Homo sapiens: one gene and its partners. The protein of the gene in region 2 binds, or shares a complex with, the protein of the main gene of each other region. Each region holds a gene or a part of one and is shown on either strand. Other genes may lie near its edges.

Region 1 (6,983 bases), on a different chromosome or scaffold from region 2:
AAGTGTGTGTCTGGGAGGTTGGGAGAGTGGCAAGTGGTAAGGCTGGGGAGTAGGTGAGGTTTTACAGGGTCTTGCAGGTCCTGGTAAGAGATGGAGATTTTCTCTAAGTACAATGGAAAGTCAATGAAGGGTTTTACCCAGGAGCGACATGTTCCAATCATTACTTAAGATCACTCCAGTTGCCATGTGGAGAACAGAATGGAGGCTGGGGAAGAGTGAACACTCAAAGGCTATTGCTTAATCCAGCCCAGAGGTGATGGACTACAAAGCTAACATTGGAGATGGTGAAAAGTAACTGCATTCAAAATATATTCTAGGGTGGAAACAACAGGACCACTGATGGACTGGATTTAGGGAGTGAAGAGAGAGGGCTAGATTTTTGGTCTATGCAATTGGATAGATGATGAGAAGAAGGTTAGAAACATACCTTTGAGAACCATCAGCACATAGATGGGTGAAATGACAGAGTGTGGAGAGAAAGGGTCCCAGGACTGAGCCCTAAGATACCACTCAACACTTAGACATCAAGCAAGAGAGGAACGGGACCCAGGGAAGGACACTGAAGTAGTCCTTGATGTAGGAGGAAATACGCAAAGGAACATACATCACAAGAAAAGGAAAGTTTCTAGAGTTTCTGTATTAACCACTGCTGAGAGATCAAGAAAGTTGAGGCCAGAAAATCAACCTCTGAATTTGACAAGATGGAGGGATCAGGTTTTTTTTTTTTTTTTTTTTGAGACAGTCTTGCCCTGTCACCTAGGCTGGAGTGCAGTGGCACAATTTGGTTCACTGCAACCCCTGCCTCCCGAGTTCAAGCGATTCTCCTGCCTCAGCCTCCTGAGTTACTGGGATTACAGGCGCCCACCACTACACCCAGTTAATTTTTGTATTTTTAGTAGAGAGGAGGTTATGCCATGTTGGCCAGGCTGGTCTCAAACTCCTGACCTCAGGGGATTCGCCCACTTCGGCCTCCTAAAGTGCTGCGATTATAGGCATGAGCCACCACGCCCCGCTGGTTCAGGTAATCTTAACAGTCATTCCCGTAGACCAGTGAGGATGAAAGCCCAACAGAATGGCTGAGAGAATGAGGGGCTAATCAGCACTTTCAAGAAGTTTTGTTGGGATGGGAAGCAGAAATGGAGTAAGAGGGGGACATGTATGTGGGGACGGAGGATTTTCTAAGATGAATTCTCTAAAGCAGGGTTGTATGCTCACAGGAAATGCTCTAGTAAAGAGGGAAAAATTAGTAATGATGGCTTGGACTAGAGTAAATTATATGAATAGTTTTTTAGGTTGCAGATGAAATCCCATCAGTGGGTTGCAAAATTAATTCAGTGGTTCAATTTTTTTTTTTTTTTTTTTTTAAGACAGAGCCTTACACTGTCACTCTGGCAGGAGTGTAGTGGCTCTATCTCAGCTCATTGCAGCCTCCTGGGATCAAGTGATCCTCCCATCTCAGCCTCGTAAGTAGCTGAGACTACAGGCATGAACCACCACACCCAGCTAACTTCTTAATTTTTTGCAGAGACAGGGTCTCCCTATGTTGCCCAGGCTGGTCTCCACCTCCCAGGTTCAAGTGATCCTTCTGCCTAAGCTTCCCAAAGTGCTGGGATTGCTGGTGTGAGCCACCACGGTTGGCCCCATTCATATTAATAAAAAATAGACAATATGAGAGTGTACGCCACACATTATTGTTTCATGAGCCTTTCATTTCAGTTACACAGACATATTGTGTTTAAAAAAAAATCGGAAGAGGCCAGGTGAAGTGGCTCACGCCTGCAATCCCAGGACTTTGGGAGTACAAAGCAGGAGGATCACTTGAGCTCAGGAGCTGGAGACCAGCCTGGGCTGTAGTGAGACCCTGCATCTACAAAACTTTTTTTAAAAAATTAGCGGTGAGTGATGGCGTGGGCCTGTAGTCCCAGCTACTGAAGAGGCTGAAGCAGGATTGCTTGAGTCCAGAAAGTGAGGCTGCAGTGAACCATGATTACACCCCGCCTGGGGGACAGAGCAAGACCCTGTTTCTTAAGAAAAAACAATTAATTAAAAATGTAAAAATGTGAAATGCCATAGTACATATAACCATTAAACATGAGGCAAAAGAACATAAAGGAAACTGTATCAAATAATCAGTTCAAAGAGAACACAAGATAGTAATACCTACAAATTAATATCAACCGTATAAAGCCCACATTCAGAGTAGATGCAAAATCTTCCATTTGCACCAGGCGCAACGAGCAAGCATGGAAAAGACCACGTGGAGTTAAACTGTCAGAAAATCTTTTACCCTCGCCTTGCACACACACCCACACACCCCCTGCTGTTTCTCTGGTCCCAGTCCTGGTTCACGTCCTTCCCTTCTCCACCCCAAAACCAGCCCCTTCCCTCACAGTGTTTACTGCTCCCATCAAATTCCGAGGGCAGCTCTTCCGAGGGCTCTCCAGGGGCCTACAGCTGCAAGCAGAGCTCTACCCGGCCCTGATTCGTCTCTCCTCCACCTACTTTCAGGGCGGACAGACTCAGGCCTTTATAGCCTTCTAAGTCCGGGGTCGGATACCAGACTGGGCTCCACCCCCGCACTGTGACCCAGAAACGCTGGTAAACGAATGAGAGAAGGAGGGGGCACATTGAAAGGCAGCCGGACACGGAAGTGCTCGGCCCCGCACCAGACACGGCGTGGAGGGGAAGCGAAGGTTCGGAAGGGCAAAGCGAGAGTCCCGTTCGTCCCCGTCACCACCCCGCGGCCCTCCCGGACAGGGCCGGCCCGCTGCCCTCACTCCCGTACGAGGGTCGCCCAGTCCCCACGGCTCTCGGCTCTCAGCTCTCAGCGGTCAAACCGTTGGGCTCCTCGGGCGAAAAGGGACGCGCCCGAGAAGACTTACACTTCCATGACGTCCCGCCTCGTCGCCCCTAGCTGCCAGCAGACAAAGAACCTCACACTTCACAGCTGTCTCCGCCGCCACCAACAGCGCCAAGGTGCCAGCTCCGCGCGCCAAGGTGCTCGCCGGGATCGCCGCGCTGCATGCCGGGAGCTTGGCGGACCCGGAACCTCGCGCTGCGCGTTCCCCTTTTTCGGGGGGCAGGGTGGGGGAGTGTCCCTGCATCCTTCCACCAGGCCGATTTAAGACTGCTAAGCGTTTGCGGACAGGATTATCTTGTGTTTTCTTTTCTTTTTTTCTTTAACCTTTTTTTTTTTTTGAGACGGAGTCTCGCTCTGTCGCCCAGGCTGGATCTCGGCTTACTGCAACCTCCGCCTCCTGGGTTCAAGCGATTCTCCTTCTGCCTCAGCCTCCCAAGTAGCTGGGACTACAGGCGCTTGCCACCAAGCCCGGCTAATTTTTTGTGTTTTTAGTAGAGACGGGGTTTCACCGTGTTAGCCAGGATGGTTTCAATCTCCTGACCTCGTGATCCGCCCGCCTCGGCCTCCCAAAGTCCTGGGATTACAGGCGTGAGGCACCGTGCCCAGCCTCTTTTTTTCTTTTTTGAGACAGAGTCTCGCTCTGTCACCCAGGCTGGAGTGCAGTGGCACGATCTCGGCTCACTGCAATCTCTGCCTCCCAGGTTCAAGCAATTCCCTGCCTCAGCCTCCCGAGTAGCTGGGATTACAGGCGCCCGCCATAACGCCTAGCTAATTTGTGTATTTTTTAGTAGAGACGGGGTTTCATCATCTTGGCCAGGCTAGTCTTGAACTCCTGACCTCGTGATCCACCCGCTTCGGCCTCCCAAAGTGTTGGGATTACAGGCGTGAGCCACCTCGCCGGGCTCTGTCTGTTTTCGTGGTCTAGGTTTTAACAAAGTATTAATCAGCTGAAGTTGTGAGACGTGATCGGGTTAGTGGGCCTTTGCATGTTAAAATCCCACCTCTCAGAGAGTAGTGAGGCTGGTGGCATCTGGGCTGCCAGAAACATTGCAGTTTATTTATTTATTTTTTAAGAGACAGGGTCTTGCTCTGTCGCCCAGGCTGGAATGCAGTGGTGCAATCAGAGCTCACTGCAGCCTTGAACTCCTGGGCTCAAGCAATCCTCCCACCCCAGCCTGCCAGAGTAGCTGGGACCACAGGTGCGCTCCGCTACACCTGGCTAATTTTCTTTTTTTCTTTTTCTTTTTCTTTTTTTTTTTTTTTGAGATCAGTCTCACTCTGTTGCCCAGGCTGGAGTGCAGTGTCGTGATCTCGGCTCATTGCAACCTCTGCCTCCTGGATTCAAGCAGTTCCCTGCCTCAGCCTCCCCAGTAGCTAGGATTACAGGTGCCCGCCATAATGCCCAGCTAATTTTTGTATTTTTTTAGTAGAGACGGGGTTTCACCATCTTGGCCAAGCTGGTCTTGAACTCCTGACCTTGTGATCCACCCTCATCAGCCTCCCAAAGTGTTGGGATTACAGGCGTGAGCCACTGCACCCAGCCACCTGGCTAATTTTCTAAAATAAAATTCTTTATTGTCCAAAGAGTCAGCTACAAAATTTTTTAATTTTTTTGTAGAGATGGGGGTCTCACTGTGTTGCCCAGGCTGGTCTTGAACTCCTCGCCTCAAGTGATCCTCCCACCTCCAACTCCCAAAGTGCTGGGATTACAGGTGTGAACCACCACAATAGCCTCTGTTGCCTACTTTGTAAATAATAAGGGTGTTAAATAATCCTTATAAAGTTCCTGGCACTTTATTAATTACTGTGGCAATACAACCATGACTCTCTATGAGGTACATTGCATTATTATTGACATTTTATAATTGAAGAAACTGAGGCAGACTTGGAGAGATTATGATTTACCAAAAGTCACTCATCTAGGAAGTTGTCCAGTGGGTATTGAACCCCAGCCAATCTGAACATATACAACAGATGCATTAACTAGAGACTGATGAGTGGATGAATAAAATGTGCTACATTTGTGCAATGGAAAACTACTTAAAAAGGAGGCTGGCCGGGCACGGTGGCTCACGCCTGTAATCCCAGCACTTTGGGAGGCCGAGGCGGGCAGATCACGATGTCAGGAGATCGAGACCATCCTGGCTAACAGGGTGAAACCCCGTCTCTACTAAAAATACAAAAAAAATTAGCCGGGCGTGGTGGTGGGCGCCTGTAGTCCCAGCTACTAGGGAGGCTGAGGCAGGAGAATGGCGTGAACCCAGAAGGCAGAGCTTGCAGTGAGCCAAGATCGTGCCACTGCACTCCAGCCTGGAAGACAGGGCAAGACTCTGTCTCAAAAATATAAAAATAAAAAGGAGGCCAGGCTTGATCTCAGCACTTTGGGGAGCAGAGGCAGGAGGATTTCTTGAGACAAGGAGTTCCAGAGCAGCCTGGGCAACATAGCTAGACCCCCTAACTACGAAAAGTTAGCCAGGTGTGGTGGTGAGCACCTCTAGTCCCAGCTACTGGGGAGGCTGAGGTAGGAGAATCGCTTGAGCCAGAAGGTAGAGGCTGCAGGGAACTATGATCACACCACTGCACTCCAGCCTACAGAGTGAGAGACCTTGTTGCAAAAAATATATATAGACAGACTGATAGATAAATGCTGCAAGATGGATAACCTCCCAAAACATGATGCTATTAATAAGTGAAAGAAGCCAGACACAAAATAATATATATTGCCTGGCCAGGTGGCTCACGCCTGTAATCCCAGCACTTTGGGTGGCTGAGGTGGGTGGATCATCTGAGATCAGGAGTTCAAGACCAGCCTGGCTAACATGGGGAAACCCTGTCTCTACCGAAAATACAAAAATCGCCAGGCGTGGTGGCTCACGCCTGTAATCCCAGCACTTTAGGAGACTGAGGCAGGCAGATCATGAGGTCAGTAGTTCGAGACCAGCCTAGCCAACATGGTGAAACCCCGTCTCTACTAAAAATACAAAAAGTAGCTGGGTGTGGTGGGGGGCACCTGTAATCCCAGCTACTCGGGAGACTGAGGCAGGAAAATTGCTTGAACCCAGGAGGCGGAGGTTGCAGTGAGCCGAGATCACGCCACTGCACTCCAGCCTGGGTGACAGAATGAGACTCCTTCTAGAAAAAAAAAAAAAAGAATACATATGGTATGATTCACTTTATATAGAATGTCCAAGAAGAGGCCAATCTATGGATACAGACAGAAGGCTAGGTTGGGGGCAAGGATGGGAAGTGATTGCTAATAAGTAGGGAGTTTCTCTTTGGGAAACAGAAATTGTCTAAAATTATTATAGATGGTGGTGGTGGTTGCACAACCCTGTGAATATACTGAAGACACTGAGTTGTATACTTTAAATGGCATATTGTACAGCATATTAATCCTATATTAATAAAGCTGTTAAACATTTTTTACTCTGCTGAGTGTGGTGGTCCACACCTGTAATCCCAGCACTTTGGAAGATGAAGGCAGGTGGATCGCTTGAGCCCAGTTTGAGACCAGCATGGGCAACATGGTGAAACCTCATCTTTACCAAAAAAATAGAAATTAACCAGCTTGATGGCTCGTGCCTGTAATCGTAGCTACTCAGGAGGCTGAGGCAGGAGCATCGTCTGAATCTGGGAGGCGGAGGTTGCAGATCACGCCACTGCACTCCAGCCTGGGTGACAGAGCAAGACTCCATCGCAAAATAACGACAACAAAAAAGTCATAAAATGCCACCCAGACCCAGCTGGCCTAGTTAGTGTGGAGAATTCCCTGTACCTTCGCTGAGGAGATTGGGCCCCACAAAGAAATGCTAAAGATGCCCCTTGTGTTATTCACTCAACAAGTATGTAGCCATGGCCCATCGGGGGCTGATGATACAAATGTGACTAACACACACCCTCTGCACTGGCTAGCTGACAGCCTAGTTGAGGAACCAGCTCTGGACATAAATAACCACAATGCATTGTGTTTCGACGCGATGGGCAGGGGAGGGAATGACTAATGAGGTGGAGAGGCGTCCCAAAGCCACGGGCCTTTGAAGTGGGTGAGGGAAAAGCACACGAGGCCGAGGGATTGGGTATGGGCTTCAGTGAAAAACAGCAGTGCCTCTGACAGCCCCCATGA
Region 2 (7,111 bases):
AATTCAAATAAATTATCACTATTATGTCATCATATAGTTTTCCTATGGTGTTGTCCAAAGCATTACATCTGTTTTTTAAGAAGTTATAAAGTCTTCAGAGACTCTTATGTTTGTAGTTGCTCTGTTTTAATTTTCATTTAATACAATTGAAAATTTCAAAAATTTTTAATTTTTTGCTCATAATGTCTAAAATTGACAGAAAAACATGTTCCACAATTCTTAGACGAATCAGAAGTCAAATGCAAAGAGATAGATAGCTCTCTGGATGCTCATGATGATGATGAAATTGATTGTATAAGCAAAATCTCAGACTGTGAGTCTTCAGATGACAGTGTCTTCAATGAATTTTCTCAAATTCAAGAATCAATGAGTAAACACTGTATCTCCAAGAATTAAAAAGGAATTATGGTGGCCTTCTACAGTCAATCTTTGAAAAAGAACTCATCATGTAATACTTTGTAACAAAAACCTGGAACATCCTGTTTGCTAAAATGAGACGATCATTTTTGTTCTATGATATTTGTGCACCAAAATTAATTTGATGTGTTTTGTAACTGACAAATGCTGAACATAAAGGCAAAGACAACAATGATTGAAAGGAAATTGATTATATAGACATGAAATTGTTTTCTGGATTGATTGTGTTAACTGGTGATTATAAATTTAATAATGAAAATATTTTGCAAGTATAGAGCAAAGAAGATGGCTGGGCCATCCTCTCTTCAATAGAAGTATGAGACATCAGCCGGGCGCAGTGGCTCACCCCTGTAATCCCAGCACTTTGGGAGTCTGAGGCAGGTGGATCACGAGGTCAGGAGATCAAGACCATCCTGGCTAACATGGTGAAACCCCGTCTCTACTAAAAATACAAAAAATTAGCCAGGCGTGGTAGAGGGCACCTGTACTCCCAGCTACTCGGGAGACTGAGGCAGGAGAGTGGAGTCAACCTGGGAGTGAGCCGAGATTGTGCCACTGCACTCCAGCCTGGGCAAGACTCCGCCTCAAAAAAAAAAAAAAAAAGTATGAGACATCAAAGTTTTTTAAAGTATTGCATTTTGGATATGTAAGTACAAGAAGAAGAATTGGAAGTAGTGATAAGCTAGATTCTACTAGAAATGCATTTATAATCTGAAATTATTTAGATGATACACATATGAGAAAACCAGAGGAAATTATAAGTTAGAACCTATTAAAGATGTCTTTGGAATCTGGGATCAGGACGTACAGAAGGCATATATTCTAGGTTTGTATGTGGCAGCCGATGCACAGAAAACTGCATTCAAATGACTTTGCCCATTTTGGTTAAATTTACCTTCAAAATCAGTAAAACATGTAATATAAATTTGGATTTGCTATACTTAATTGCTTAGTAAAATCTCCAATAACTTTATTTATTTATTTTTATTTGAGACAGGATCTCGTTCTGTCACCCAGGCTGGAATGCAGTGGCATAATCTCAGCTCACTGCAGCCTCCACCTCCCAGGCTCAAGTGATCCTCCCACCGTAGCCTCCCAAGTAGCTGGAACCACTGGCATGAGCTACCATGCCCAGCTAATTTTTGCATTTTTTGTAGAGATGGGGGTTTCACCATGTTGCTCAGGCTGGTCTCGAACTCCTGGACTCAAGGGATCCAGCTGCCTTGGCCTCCCAAAGTGCTGGGATTACATCCTGAGCCACTGTGTTGGGCCTAGTTTTATTGATTTTTAAGTAACAGCTTTACTGAGACATAATCCACTATATAAAATTTACTTTTTAAAGTGTACAATTCAGTGACTTTTAATATAGCCACAGAGTTGTGCAATCAACACCACTATTTAATTTTTTTTTTTTTTTTTTTTTTTTTTTTTTTTTTTTTTTTTTTTTTTTGAGACAAGAGTCTTGCTCTGTTACCCAGGCTGGAATGCAGTGGCATTATCTCAGTTCACTGCAACCTCCACCTCCTGGATTCAAGTGATTCTCTTGCCGCAGTCTCCCAAGTAGCTGGGATTACAGGCACGTGCCACCACACATGGCTAATTTTTTTGTGTTTTTAGTATAGATGGGGTTTCACCATGTTGGCCCGGCTGGTCTTGAACTCCTGACCTATTAGCAATCTACCTGCCCCAGCCTCTCAAAGTGCTGGGATTACAGGTGTGAGCCACTGTGCCCAGCCACTATCTAATTTTTTAGATGCTTTTCATCATCTAGAAAAGAAATTCTGTACCCTTTAGTAGTCATTCCCTACTCTCCCTCCTTCCAACCCATGGCACCAGAAATCTGCTTTCTGTCTCTAGAGATTCCATGTCATATAAATGGAATGATGTAACATGTGTCTTTGGCTTCTTTCACTTGCCATAATGTTTTCAAGGTTCATTCATGGCTTAGTACATATGAGTGCTTCATTCCTTTTTATGGCTGAATAATATTCCACTGTATGGATATATGCCACATTTTGTTTATCCACTCATCACTTGATGGGCATTTGGGTCAGTTCACTTTTGGGATTACATGAGTTATCTTGTCATAAACATTCATGTACATGTTTTATGTGAAGACATGTTTTCATTTATATTGGGTATATACATAGGATCATATGGTAACTCTGTATTTCACATTTTGAGGAACTGCCAAACAGTTTTCTAAAGTGGCCACCCGATTTTACATTCCCATCAATAATGTATGAGAGTTCCAATTTTTCCATATCCTTGCCAACATTTCTTATTTTTTTTTTATTCTAGCCATCCTAGTGGTTGTAACACAGTATCTCATTGTGGTTTTGATTTGAATTTCCGTAATGATTGGTGATGTTGGACATCTTTTCATGCTTTTTGTCCATTTTTGTATCTTCTTTAGAGAATTGTCTATTCAAATCCTTTACCTCTTTTTAATTGGGTTCCAATAATTGGTTTTCAATATCTGTTCTTTTATCTGTTATCTTTTTTATTTATTCTCTGTATTTCATTATTTGAAATTAACTTAAAAATATTTTAAAATATAAAAAGTGGTCTACTGTACCCAGAGAAAAAGGGTAAAAACTGTTTTTTTCCGGTATACTGAGGGTTAAAATTATTTAAAATATGGAAACTGTTTTGGAGAAAATTCTTAAAAAGAAGTCATTGTGTTACAAATTCTAGGAATCTCTCATTTGTGCTGACTTCGTTTTATAGATTAAAAACTTGGCAAGATTAGTTAAAACATTTTACCTGAAGTCAAACAGTTAAAATACCTAGAAAAACCTGATCTCTTGGTCTCTGATCTACTACTTATTTTGGTTATCTTTCTCTAATACGTGGTTGTATTATTTGGAAGCATATACTTGACATAGAAGAAAAATCAGTATATATTTGGTCCTTGATTTTTATCCATTCATCTTTAGTATTACCTTCCCTTTTTCATGCCTAACTCCTGAACTACTTTTTATGATGAACATGGCTTCAAGCTTTTGTGTGATAGTGTTGCTTTCCAACTTGTGCTGCTGGAAAAGAGTTTGTGCCCTCCTTAAGGGTGTTTCTTGTGATAAGGTGGACTAGTCTGAATCAAGAGCCGCAGTTATGGCTTTACTGGTTTTGGCAAGCTCAGAGGGTTCCTGCAGAGTTTTCAGCAATTGGCATGTAGGGCTTGCAGCTTGCTCATTTATGCCTCAGATCAGTAACCCCTCACCAAGTCCATCCTTGCCTACCCCTACCCTTTTTCCCATTCTCTTATGTACAAAGGTGGGAAACTCCCTGTATGTAAAATTAAAAATGTTGTCTGTTGTTTTCAATAATCTTAAAGGAATGGCTTAAGTTCAGGGTTACTGTTGATTTTCCTAATGAGTTCTTTATTCTTTTTTCCCCTAGATATTGAAAGGTATAGTAAAAGATACATGAAGGTATACAAGGAAGAATGGATACCAGGTAACTACAAAACACACAATATGAAAACAGTTTTTAAAGGCTGTCTCTCTCACCTCATGTTTTTTTTTTAGAATAAGTTTTCTATTTTTACCATAGGAAAACTGAGTCTGGTTCTTTTATTGTGATTAATTAGTAATCTGTTAGAAACTAAGGTGAAAAGATTTTTATGCTAAAACAAGGAAGAGTTGAAGTGCTTTTGTGGAAGTTCTTAAAATATATATATATGTATATTTTATTTTATTTTATTTATTTTTTTGAGATGGAGTCTTGCTCTGTCGCCCAGGCTGGAGTGCAGTGGCACGATATCGGCTCATTGCAAGCTCCACCTCCAGGGATCATGCCATTCTCCTGCCTCAGCCTCCCGAGTAGCTGGGACTACAGGCCCCCGCCACCATGCCCAGCTAATTTTTTGTATTTTTAGTAGAGACGGAGTTTCACCGTGTTCGCCAGAATGGTCTTGATCTGACCTCATGATCCGCCCGCCTCAGCCTCCCAAAGTGCTGGGATTACAGGCATGAGCCAACACCCCCCACCCTTAATATACATTTTTTACAAAAATAGGACAGGCCAAACAAACCCTTTGAATTTTCCAATTTAATTAGCCACAATCACAATTTTAATTTGTAATACCAGAAAGCACAAATACTATGCTCCTGAGCAATTTTAGAGCATTTGAAGAGAAAGCAAAAATCTCGTTTTAAAGATATTTTAAGCCAAGCTCATGGATCTTCCTTTCTTTTAAGCAGACATAGACTAGTTTTAGTTGTTAGGCTTCTTCAAAAGAACCATATCCAAAAAGAAGCTTTACCTTGGGTATGGACAAGTTAGAAGGGTCTGTAAAGGAGATCTCATCCCACTCATTCATTTTGCAAATAAAAACAGTTGTCATAGAAATAAAGTGACCTGTCAGGCCATGTGGCCAATACTGTTAGAACCCAGGTCTTCTCATTTTAATTCACATTCTTTTTATGTCTCTGTCCTTGGTCTTTTATGGAAACTCCCCTTATGTAAAAACATAGATGGCATTAACAGCCTTATCATTTTCACAGATTATAGTACTATCTTTTCAGTGTTGGTAAGGTTGGGGCACCCTGGAAACAACTTAGGTCTCTCATTTCTTCCGTTTCATTAGTATTCATCTCTCAAATGATTCTCTACATATTCCGTCATGATCTAAAATGAATAGCTTATAAAAACTAAAATATATTCAAAGCAAAATTTATTTTTCAGGTAAAATGACTTGAGATTTAAATGCTTTGTAAAAATGCTCCAAATTTTCTTTAAAAGCAGGCAATATTTTTAAATCAACTTTTATGTTGCTTCCATTTCCTGTTTAACTCTATGCTTAAAAATTAAAAGAAAGTGACACATTAGAGGAATTATTTAGCTAATACAAGCAAAATTATTTATTGGAGGAGATTTGTTTTTGACAGCTATTTATATTTTTAATTTTAAAGTTTTCAGATATTACAATTGTTTATTTCATTTTGCATGTTTTGGGATTATGGTAACATCCTTTTGAAAAAAAAAATTTGTTGCATAAGAAATATATCAACTACAGAATATATCAACTACAGAAAACTTATGAAATATAAAGTGGTCAAATAAATATAAATAATACTTAAGAAAAACTGTCATAATTCCAACACCCACAAATAATTACCATAAGGTTTCCTTCACCAAAAATTTTATAGCACTATTTCAGAGCTATTGTAATAAATTTTCTTTATAGGAGAAAATATATCATTGTCTGTAATATTTGGATTTGGTTTTTATATGTTTCAAGCTAAATTTGTAAAGTCAGATACTAAGGCACTTTATTGTCATTTTCTGGACAACTGTTGTGTCCTTCAAATAGTTATGTTCAATGCCACAAATTCCTAGAGGAAACTGCAATTTTTTATTTTTTATTTTATGTACAGATTGGAGAAGACTTCCAAGAGAGATGATGCCAAGAAATAAATGTAAAAAAGGTACATTGACTAATATAATAGTAATTCAGGTAGGAAAAGGTTATTTCTTACATTCTGTTAATATGGATTTGTCAACCCAAAGTTATACTCACTGTTCTTAATGCTTTTCTTATTTTGAGCCAGACAAGGGATCTCATGCCTGTAATCTCAGCATTTCGGGAGGCTGAGGTGGGAGGATCACTTGAGCCCAGGAGTTTGAGACCAGCCTGGGCAACATAGTGAGAACTTGTCTCTACAAAAAGTTAAAACAAGTATTAGCCAAGTGTGGTGGCATGCACCTGTAGTCCCAGCTACTTGGGGGTCTAAGGTGGGAGGATCACTTGAGCCAAAGAGGCAGAGGCTGCAATTAGCCTAAACTGCACCACTGCACTTAAGCCTGGAAGACAGAGCAAGACCCTGACACTCTGTCTAGGACACTGACTCTCTCCCTCTCTCTGTCCCCCCATGTATGTGTGTGTGTGTGTATATATATGCATTATAACTATTTTGCTAAAGCTTGTTTTTTGTTGTTTGTCTTTTGGGTGTTTTTTTTCTTAGTTGTTGCCTTTTCTTTGTGTATGTCTTATTTTTTAATTTTTAAATGTTTTATCTTTTTTTAAATTTCTGTGTTTATTTTAGATACAGGGGTACATGTGCAGGTTTGTTACATTGGTATATTGCACTCAGGTAGTGAGTGTACTACCTAATAGGTAGTTTGTTAACTCACTCCACCCCGTCCTCCCCTCCCGACTTTAGTAGTTCACTGTGTCTGTTGTTCCCATGTTTATGTCCATGTGTGCTCAGTGTTTAGCGCCCACTTATAAGTGAGAACATGCAATATTTGGTTTTCTGTTCCTGCATTTATTCACTTAGGATTTTCCTTTAGTTATGGAATTGTGGAGCTGCTAAGAAAGACTTTTCAATTATTGTAGACCTTTTCATTTGCATAACTGCAGATTTTTTATTATACTGGCTACATTATAAATTATTAACTAAAACATTTTAAAATTGGGAAACCAATAAAATGGAGCTTTATGTTGTATAGAAGAATGCCAAAGTGAATGTTTACAGTTTGTTTTTCTTTAGTAATTTCATTCAGTAAATAGTTATCTATTATTGCCAGACATTGTGCTGACAGGAATAAAACTGAGCAAAGTGGGAATAATCCTTGTCCTCATGGAGCTTGTAGTCAAATGGGGTAAAATCACTAAAGAAAAACACACTGTCCTCATTGGGAAGGGTTCTTTGAGGACATGGAATTGGAGTTGAGATTGAAGGATGAA
Region 3 (7,111 bases), on a different chromosome or scaffold from region 2:
AGTGTATATGGTGATGGAGAAGAAGCTCAGAACATCTTCAGAATTGCTAGTTTACAAAAATAGGTGGATTAAATTCTGTTAAGTGAGCTGGAGGAGACAGTGAGTTTAGGTTTGCTCATGCTAAGCTGGAGGGTTACAGGAGGTCAAAATGGATTTTCTGGATGGTATTCTGAAATGCAGGTCTGAAGTTTATGATGCTTACTTGTTGACATTACGTTTCAGGGTCTCTAGCTGCTGACGTTCAGGAGCTGTGATCATCTCCTCTATTTCTTGTAACTGTGCTTCCTCTGCACCAGTAGCCTGCATAGATGCAATGATGGCTTCTACCCTCTGAGATTTTTCTAGTAGACGCCTGTCAAACAAACACAACTCTGAGACATCTTCCCTAACCTGGGAGATTCTCTTACCACGTGTGTCTGAGGCACTACCCACCACCCTTTACCATTTTCCTGATCAAAGTAGATAATGTCACCTTCTAAGGACATTTTCTACAAACTTATTTGGAAATATAACTTCACTCCTGAAATTCTTATTGCCTCTCATTTGCACTTAAAAGTTTGGTGCTTTTGTACGTTTCTCACAAATTTAATCTGAAAAATTATTTCACTGGGAGCATGTTAGAAAAGTGTAGACTAATGCATGATTTACACTAATCTAAGCCAATGATTCAATGCAAGTAGACTGGTTGCTATCTCTACTGGTTCCTACTTCTCAAAAAAAAAATTTTTTTTTTTGAGATGGAGTCTCACTTTGTCGCCCAGGCTGGAGTGCAGTGGCGTGATCTTGGTTCACTGCAACCTCCACTCACTGGGTTTAAGTGATTCTCCTGCCTTAGCCTCCCGAGTAGCTGGGACTATAGGTGCCCGCCACCATGCCCAGCTAATTTTTGTATTTTTAGTGAAGACAGGGTTTCACCATGTTGGCCAGGTTGGTCTCAAACTCCTGACCTCAAGTGATCCACCTGCCTCAGCCTCCCGAAGTGCTGGGATTACAGGCATGAGCCACCCTGCCAGGCCCAGCGTCTATTGATTCCTATTTCTAGAGGAAATTTCCCCTGAGGCCCTTGATCTTGAAAGATGTAAATAACTCAACTGAAAATGTTACTTACTTATTCTCTTTGGTTTCAAATTGCCTCCTTTCTATCAAGTTGGCTATGCTCTGAGGAAAGAGAAGACAGACAAGGAATGCACATAGTTCTATTTCAGCAGCTCAGGGCGAAGTGGGCACATGAGGGGTACTTGACCGTATGGAGGAAATGGGGAGAAGGTCCAGATTGAGTTACCTTGTAGCACCTGTGCAACAACATTCGGGCAGCTGACAGGATGTTCACAGTATATAAATAGAAGGTCCTGGATGGGGCATGGTCTGGTGTTTTGGGAATTTCCTATTTGTCCAATAGAAAGAAAAATAGCAGAAATTATACTGTTTTAGAACTGGCAAAGCACACACTCATTCTACCTGGAGTTACTTAGCCCTCCTTTTTACTTACACTTTCCTGTTTCCTAGTCATTCAGTACCTGTGTTTATTTTATTTATTTATTTTGAGACTGGGTCTTGCTCTGTTACCTAGGATGGAGTGCGGTGGCATGATATCAGCTCACTGCAACTTCCACCTCCGGCTCAAGCAATCCTCCCACCTCAGTCCCCCAAGTAGCCGGAACTACAGGCATGCACCACCATGCTCCGCTAATTTTTTAATCTTTTGGGGGTGGTGGAGACATGGTCTCACTATATTTTCCAGGCTGGTCTTGAATTCCTGGGCTCAAGTGATCATCCCGCCTTGGTTTCCCAAAGTGCTGAGAATACAGGTGTGCCCGGCCCAGTCTTTGTGGTTTATGTCATAATCAGTCAAATGGAGAGCTGGGCTTCCCTGTTTTTTCCATTTGACTGTCAGCATCCTGAGCTGGGGAAGAAAGGGAGGGCAACTAACATTTACTGAACAACTCTATGTGCCAGGTAAATTCTATTTGATCTTTACAAAAAGTCGTATTATTATTATTTTTGAGACAGAGTCTTGCTCTGTTGCCCAGGCTGGAGTGCAGTGGCACAATGTTGGCTCACTGCAACCTCTGCCTCCCAGGTTCAAGCAATTCTCCTTCCTCAGCCTCCTGAGTAGCTGGGATTACAGACACACGGCACCACGCCCAGCTAATTTTTGTATTTTTAGTAGAGACAGGGTTTCACCAGGTTGGCCAGGCTATTCTCGAATTCCTGACCTCAAGTGATCCGTCCGCCTAGGCCTCCCAAAGTGCTGGGATTACAGGCATGAGCCACCGCACCTGGCAACCATATTATTTTTATTATCACCATCCATCACTGTTTTATAGATGGGAAACGTGGTAACTTGCTTAATGTAACTGGGTAAGGCAGAGCTGTAATCTGACTCCAAAAATCCATTCTATCTATTTACTCATATGCTCTACTAAATAGCCCTGCAAAGACTCAGTTAGATGTGTTGATAAATTTAAACTATAACAGAATTAAGGCTTAAGGAAGGACAGAAATGAGAAGAGAAAAAAAGGCAGGGTGGGTTTGGGGTGATGTCCTGGCTCTGCCTCTTTTTTGTTTTTTGTTTTTTTTGTTTTTTGAGACAGAGTCTCACTCTGTTGCTCAGGCTAGAGTGCAGTGGCTTGATCTCGGCTCACTGCAACCTCCCCCTCCTGGGTTCAAGAGAGTCTCCTTCCTGCCTCAGCCTCCCGAGCAGCTGGGACTATAGGCGTGTGCCACCAGGCCCAGCTAATTGTTTTGTATTTTATTAGAGACGGAGTTTCACCATGTTGGCCAGGCTGGTCTCGAACTCCTGACCTCAAGTGATTTGCCCACCTTGGCCTCCCAAAGTGCTGGGACTACAGGCGCGAACCACCGTGCCCGGCCACCTCTTTCTCACTAGGGCAGTTAAGGCCCCAAATTATCCTCCAAGTGCTCGCTATGTCTCTGTGAATCATGTTTTTCTGTCTCAGAGCTGGATATAGAGTTTGCTTGGGGGTTCAGTATGTTTGCCTAAGAAGCTTCTCTCACCCTAGGCCAGCTTTGCTGGTTGGCAATTATTACGCCCTTGGTTGGTTACCTGGAGTGACATGAAATTTTCTGAGAGCATCTTATATAGCATATCCTTTGCCTCCTTTGCAGGAATCATTGCAAAGTCTTCCACTTGCTTCTGCTCTATGTGTTTCTTCTGCAAAACTAGACGGAATATTCTAGCACAGCGAGACCCAAATCTGGAAAGGAATGAAGAAAGCAAATGGCATGCTAACATAGATCAGCTTTAGTTCCCAGTCATAGATGGGGTGGTTGTTCTATTCCATGTGTGAAGCCAGTACCAGACAGGAACAGTGATCAGAAAATTATTCTACAGCTCCATAGGTTGGTGATGGTAAGGCATCACCAACTGCTGTTAATCATAAGGCAGTCACCAACTGCTGACTCATTTGAGTGCCACAGTTCCTACATTTGTAAGCAAAGGCTTTAGGGAGGCTGGTTAATTTGCATCGGTAGGAATTAAACAGTAGGTTATTTTAAGGTAAAGAGCAGTATTACATGAGATCCATAGGAGTCCAGTGAAAAAATGGGGAAAAGTATGCCAAGGTGTGGTTATATTGGTGGCTTACATAATGATCAAATTACTTCACTGGGGATAGGAAGTATGTGATCCCAAACCCAACCAGTGTCCCCCTTACCTCTCCTGTACGACGGACTCCAGAGTGGCTGTGGCTAGGGATGCTAATGCCTTATGGAGGTCTTTATGTAGAGAATTAAGGTCACTCAGTAATGTTTTGGCCTAGTTATTGTGATCTGAGTTTTATTCCTAAGTTTCTAATTTATAATTAAATTTTAAATGCTATTTTGTTTTTCATGTTATAATTTATGGTTTCAGTCATGGTACATAAATATTCCAAAACTTTAATACAAGTGTTTAAGTAAGGGTTTTGCTTAACTAAAATTTGGTTGATTAAAAGTCCTTTTTCCTTTTCTTTTTTGAGACAGGGTCACCCAGGTTGGAGTACAGTGGCATGATCTCAGCTTACTGCAACGTCTGTCTCCTGGGCTCTAGCGATCCTCCCACCTCAGCCTCCTGAGGAGCTGGACTACAAGCATGCATCGTTACAGCTGGCTAGTTTTTGTATTTTTGGTAGAGATGGGGTTTTGCCATGTTGCTTAGCTGATCTTGAACTCCTGGGTTCATGCAATTCACCTGCCTCAGCCTCCCAAAGTCCACCATGCCTGGCCTCTTTTTACTTCATCATCAATGCAGTTCACTGAAAATTCATAGAAAAATTTATTTAACAATTACTTCAATTTTCTAATTTATTTAGTATAATAAACATTACCAAATCTTTCTTTCCTAAGGCACCATTCTGATTTATAGGTCAGGCTGCCTGACTCTAAGGAAATAACTGGTAAGGATACTGATGACATACATTCCTCCACCACTGTCGCCAGACTTTCCAACAAACTCTAGCTATTAAGAAAAAGAGAGAGTGTTAACTGAACGGAAAGTCCAGTGATTCTGTTTCCAATGGAACAAATCTGACCAAAAGTCTGCAGCAGGTAGCCCTCCTATCAAATGATGTGGAGAAATTGTCTGGGCTGGCTAGGTAGAGAATAACTCTGCAGGAGGATGACACTAGGTATCAGTGCAGAAATAAATTATCAACAGTACAGGCTAAAGAAAAAAGAAAAAAAGCAAAAACAGACTTACTGGATCATCTGCCAGCAGAGTGAGATACTGATCAAGAACTTGCTTAGAGATGTTATAGCCAACAGGTAGGGATCTGAAGATCTATGGAGCAAAGGACACTTAAAATGGGTTTGGGAACTTAGAACTCCTGACCTTACTGAAATAAAGATGTTTTAGGCCGGGCACAGTGGCTAAGGCCTGTAATCCGAACACTTTGGGAGGCTGAGGCAGGTGGATCACTTTGGGTCAAGAGTTGGAGACCAGCCTGACCAATATGGTGAAACCCCGTCTCTAGTAAAAATACAGAATTAGCTGGACGTGGTGGCGCATGCCTGTAATCCCAGCTATTTGGGAGGCTGAGGCAGGAGAACTGCTTGAACCTGGGAGGCAGAGGTTGCAGTGAGCCGAGATTGCGCCAATGGACTCCAGCCTGGGCTACAAGGGCGAAACTCCGTCTCAAAAAAAAAAAAAAAAAAGTTTTAATTTTAGTTACCACAAAACTGTCCAAAAATATTCACAGCAGGATTGTTTGTAAGAGTAAAAAACTAGAAACACCCAAATGACCAGTACCGAGTACACTAAAATAAAATATAGCACGGCCATTAAGTGGAATATGATACAGTCATTATGAAGAGTGAGACAAATCTACAGAAACTAACATGAAAGGAAGTTTTACATACACTGTCATATAAAAAATCAAGTTATAGAACAGTATGACTAGGTTGGGTGTGGTGGATCACGACTTTGTAATGCCAGCACTTTGAGAGGCTGAGGTGGGAGGATCACTTGATGTCAGGAGTTCGAGACCAGCCTGGCCAACACAGTGAAACCCTGTCTCTACTAAAAATACAAAAATTAGCCTGGCGTGGTGGCATGTGCCTGTGATCTCAGCTACTCGGAAGGATGAGCAGGAGAATGCCTTGAACCCAGGAGGCGGAGGTTGCAGTGAGCTGAGATTGCGCTACTGCACTCCAGCCTGGGTGAAAGAGTACAAGACTCTGTCACAAAAAAACAAAAACAAACAAACAAAACCCAACCAAAAAGCCATATGAATAGTCCCATTTTGGGGTTAAAAAATACATATACCCACATATATGTTAGAGTATGCAAGGTCTGAATAAAGATATATACCAAACTTTTTTTTTTTTTTTGAGACAGAGTCTCACTCTGTTTCCCAGGCTAGAGTGCAGTGGTGCGATCTCAGCTCACTGCAACCTCCCATTCCCGGGTTCAAGCGATTCTCCTGCCTCAGCCTCCCAAGTAGCTGGGATTACAGGCGCCCATCACCATGCCTGGCTAATTTCTGTAATTTTAGTAGAGATGAGGTTTCACCATGTTGGACTATGCTGGTCTTGAACTCCTCAGGTGATCTGCCTGCCTCGGCCACCCAAAGTACTGGGATTACGGGTGTGAGCTGCTGCGTCCGGCCTTTTTTTTTTTTTTTTTTTTTTGAAATAGGGTTTTGCTCTGTTGTTTAAGCTGGAGTGCAGTGGCATGATCATAGTTGACTGCAACCTCAACTCTTGGGCTCAAGCAATCCTCCTGCCTCAGCCTCTCGAATAGCTGTGACTACAGGCATATGGCACCACACCCAACTAATTTTTTAAAAAAATTTTTTGTAGAGACGGGGGTCTTGTCATGTTGCCCAGGTTGGTCTTCAACTCCTGGCCTCAAGGGATCCTTCTGCCTCAACCTCCCAAAGTTCTAGGATTACAAGTGTGAGTCACTGCACCTGGCCATAGAACTTTAAAATAAACAATATAAAAATATAGGAATATTTAAACACAGTCATGCACCATATAACATTTTAGTCAACAACGGACCGTGTGCAGCTGTGGTCCCATATTATACTGGAGCTGAAAAATTCCTACTGCTTTGTGATGTCATAGCTGTTGTAACATCATAGCACAATGCCGTTGTGAAACACATTACTCACATGTGTGGTGAGGCTGGAGTGCAGTGGTATGATCTTGGCTCACTGCAACCTCTGCCTCCTGGGTTCAAGCAATTCTCCTGCCTCAGCCTCCCGAGTAGCTGGGACCACAGGCGCATGCCACCATGCCCGGCTAATTTTTTTTTTTTTTTTTGTATTTTAGTAGATGGGTTTCACCATGTTGCCCAGGCTGGTCTCAAACGCCTGAGCTCAGGCAACCCACCAGCCTGGGCCTCCCAAAGTGCTAGGATTACAGGCGTGAGCCACCCCGCTCAGCCTGTTACTGGTTTTTAATAAATACAGTGTAGCCTGAGCGTGTAGACCATCACATTCACATTAATCTGCCATTCATTCACTAACTCCCACAGGGCAACTTTTAGTCCTGAAAGCTCCATTCATGTTAAGTGCACTAAACAGGTGTGGTTTTTAATTTTTCATACCATATTTTTACTGTACCTTTTCTGTGATTAGATGTTTAGATACACAGATGCTACTGCGTT

What was found.
Region 1: POLR3G (region 2) and CRCP share a complex: the UniProt entries of both Homo sapiens proteins name them as parts of the RNA polymerase III complex.
Region 3: POLR3G (region 2) and POLR3C share a complex: the UniProt entries of both Homo sapiens proteins name them as parts of the RNA polymerase III complex.

What each region holds. Positions count from the first base shown.
Region 1 is NC_000007.14:66,110,870-66,117,852, reverse strand, and holds the start of CRCP (DNA-directed RNA polymerase III subunit RPC9), read right to left. Parts: upstream 2,939-6,983; 5' UTR 2,891-2,938; coding exon 2,883-2,890; intron 1-2,882. UniProt on the Homo sapiens protein: DNA-dependent RNA polymerase catalyzes the transcription of DNA into RNA using the four ribonucleoside triphosphates as substrates.
Region 2 is NC_000005.10:90,491,858-90,498,968, forward strand, and holds part of POLR3G (DNA-directed RNA polymerase III subunit RPC7), read left to right. Parts: intron 1-3,819; coding exon 3,820-3,876; intron 3,877-5,798; coding exon 5,799-5,849; coding exon of another isoform or gene 5,850-5,878; intron 5,879-7,111. UniProt on the Homo sapiens protein: DNA-dependent RNA polymerase catalyzes the transcription of DNA into RNA using the four ribonucleoside triphosphates as substrates.
Region 3 is NC_000001.11:145,834,163-145,841,273, reverse strand, and holds part of POLR3C (DNA-directed RNA polymerase III subunit RPC3), read right to left. Parts: intron 4,781-7,111; coding exon 4,700-4,780; intron 4,460-4,699; coding exon 4,408-4,459; intron 4,257-4,407; coding exon of another isoform or gene 4,254-4,256; exon of another isoform or gene 3,783-4,253; intron 3,739-3,782; coding exon 3,678-3,738; intron 3,219-3,677; coding exon 3,068-3,218; intron 1,385-3,067; coding exon 1,283-1,384; intron 1,159-1,282; coding exon 1,109-1,158; intron 353-1,108; coding exon 203-352; intron 1-202. UniProt on the Homo sapiens protein: DNA-dependent RNA polymerase catalyzes the transcription of DNA into RNA using the four ribonucleoside triphosphates as substrates.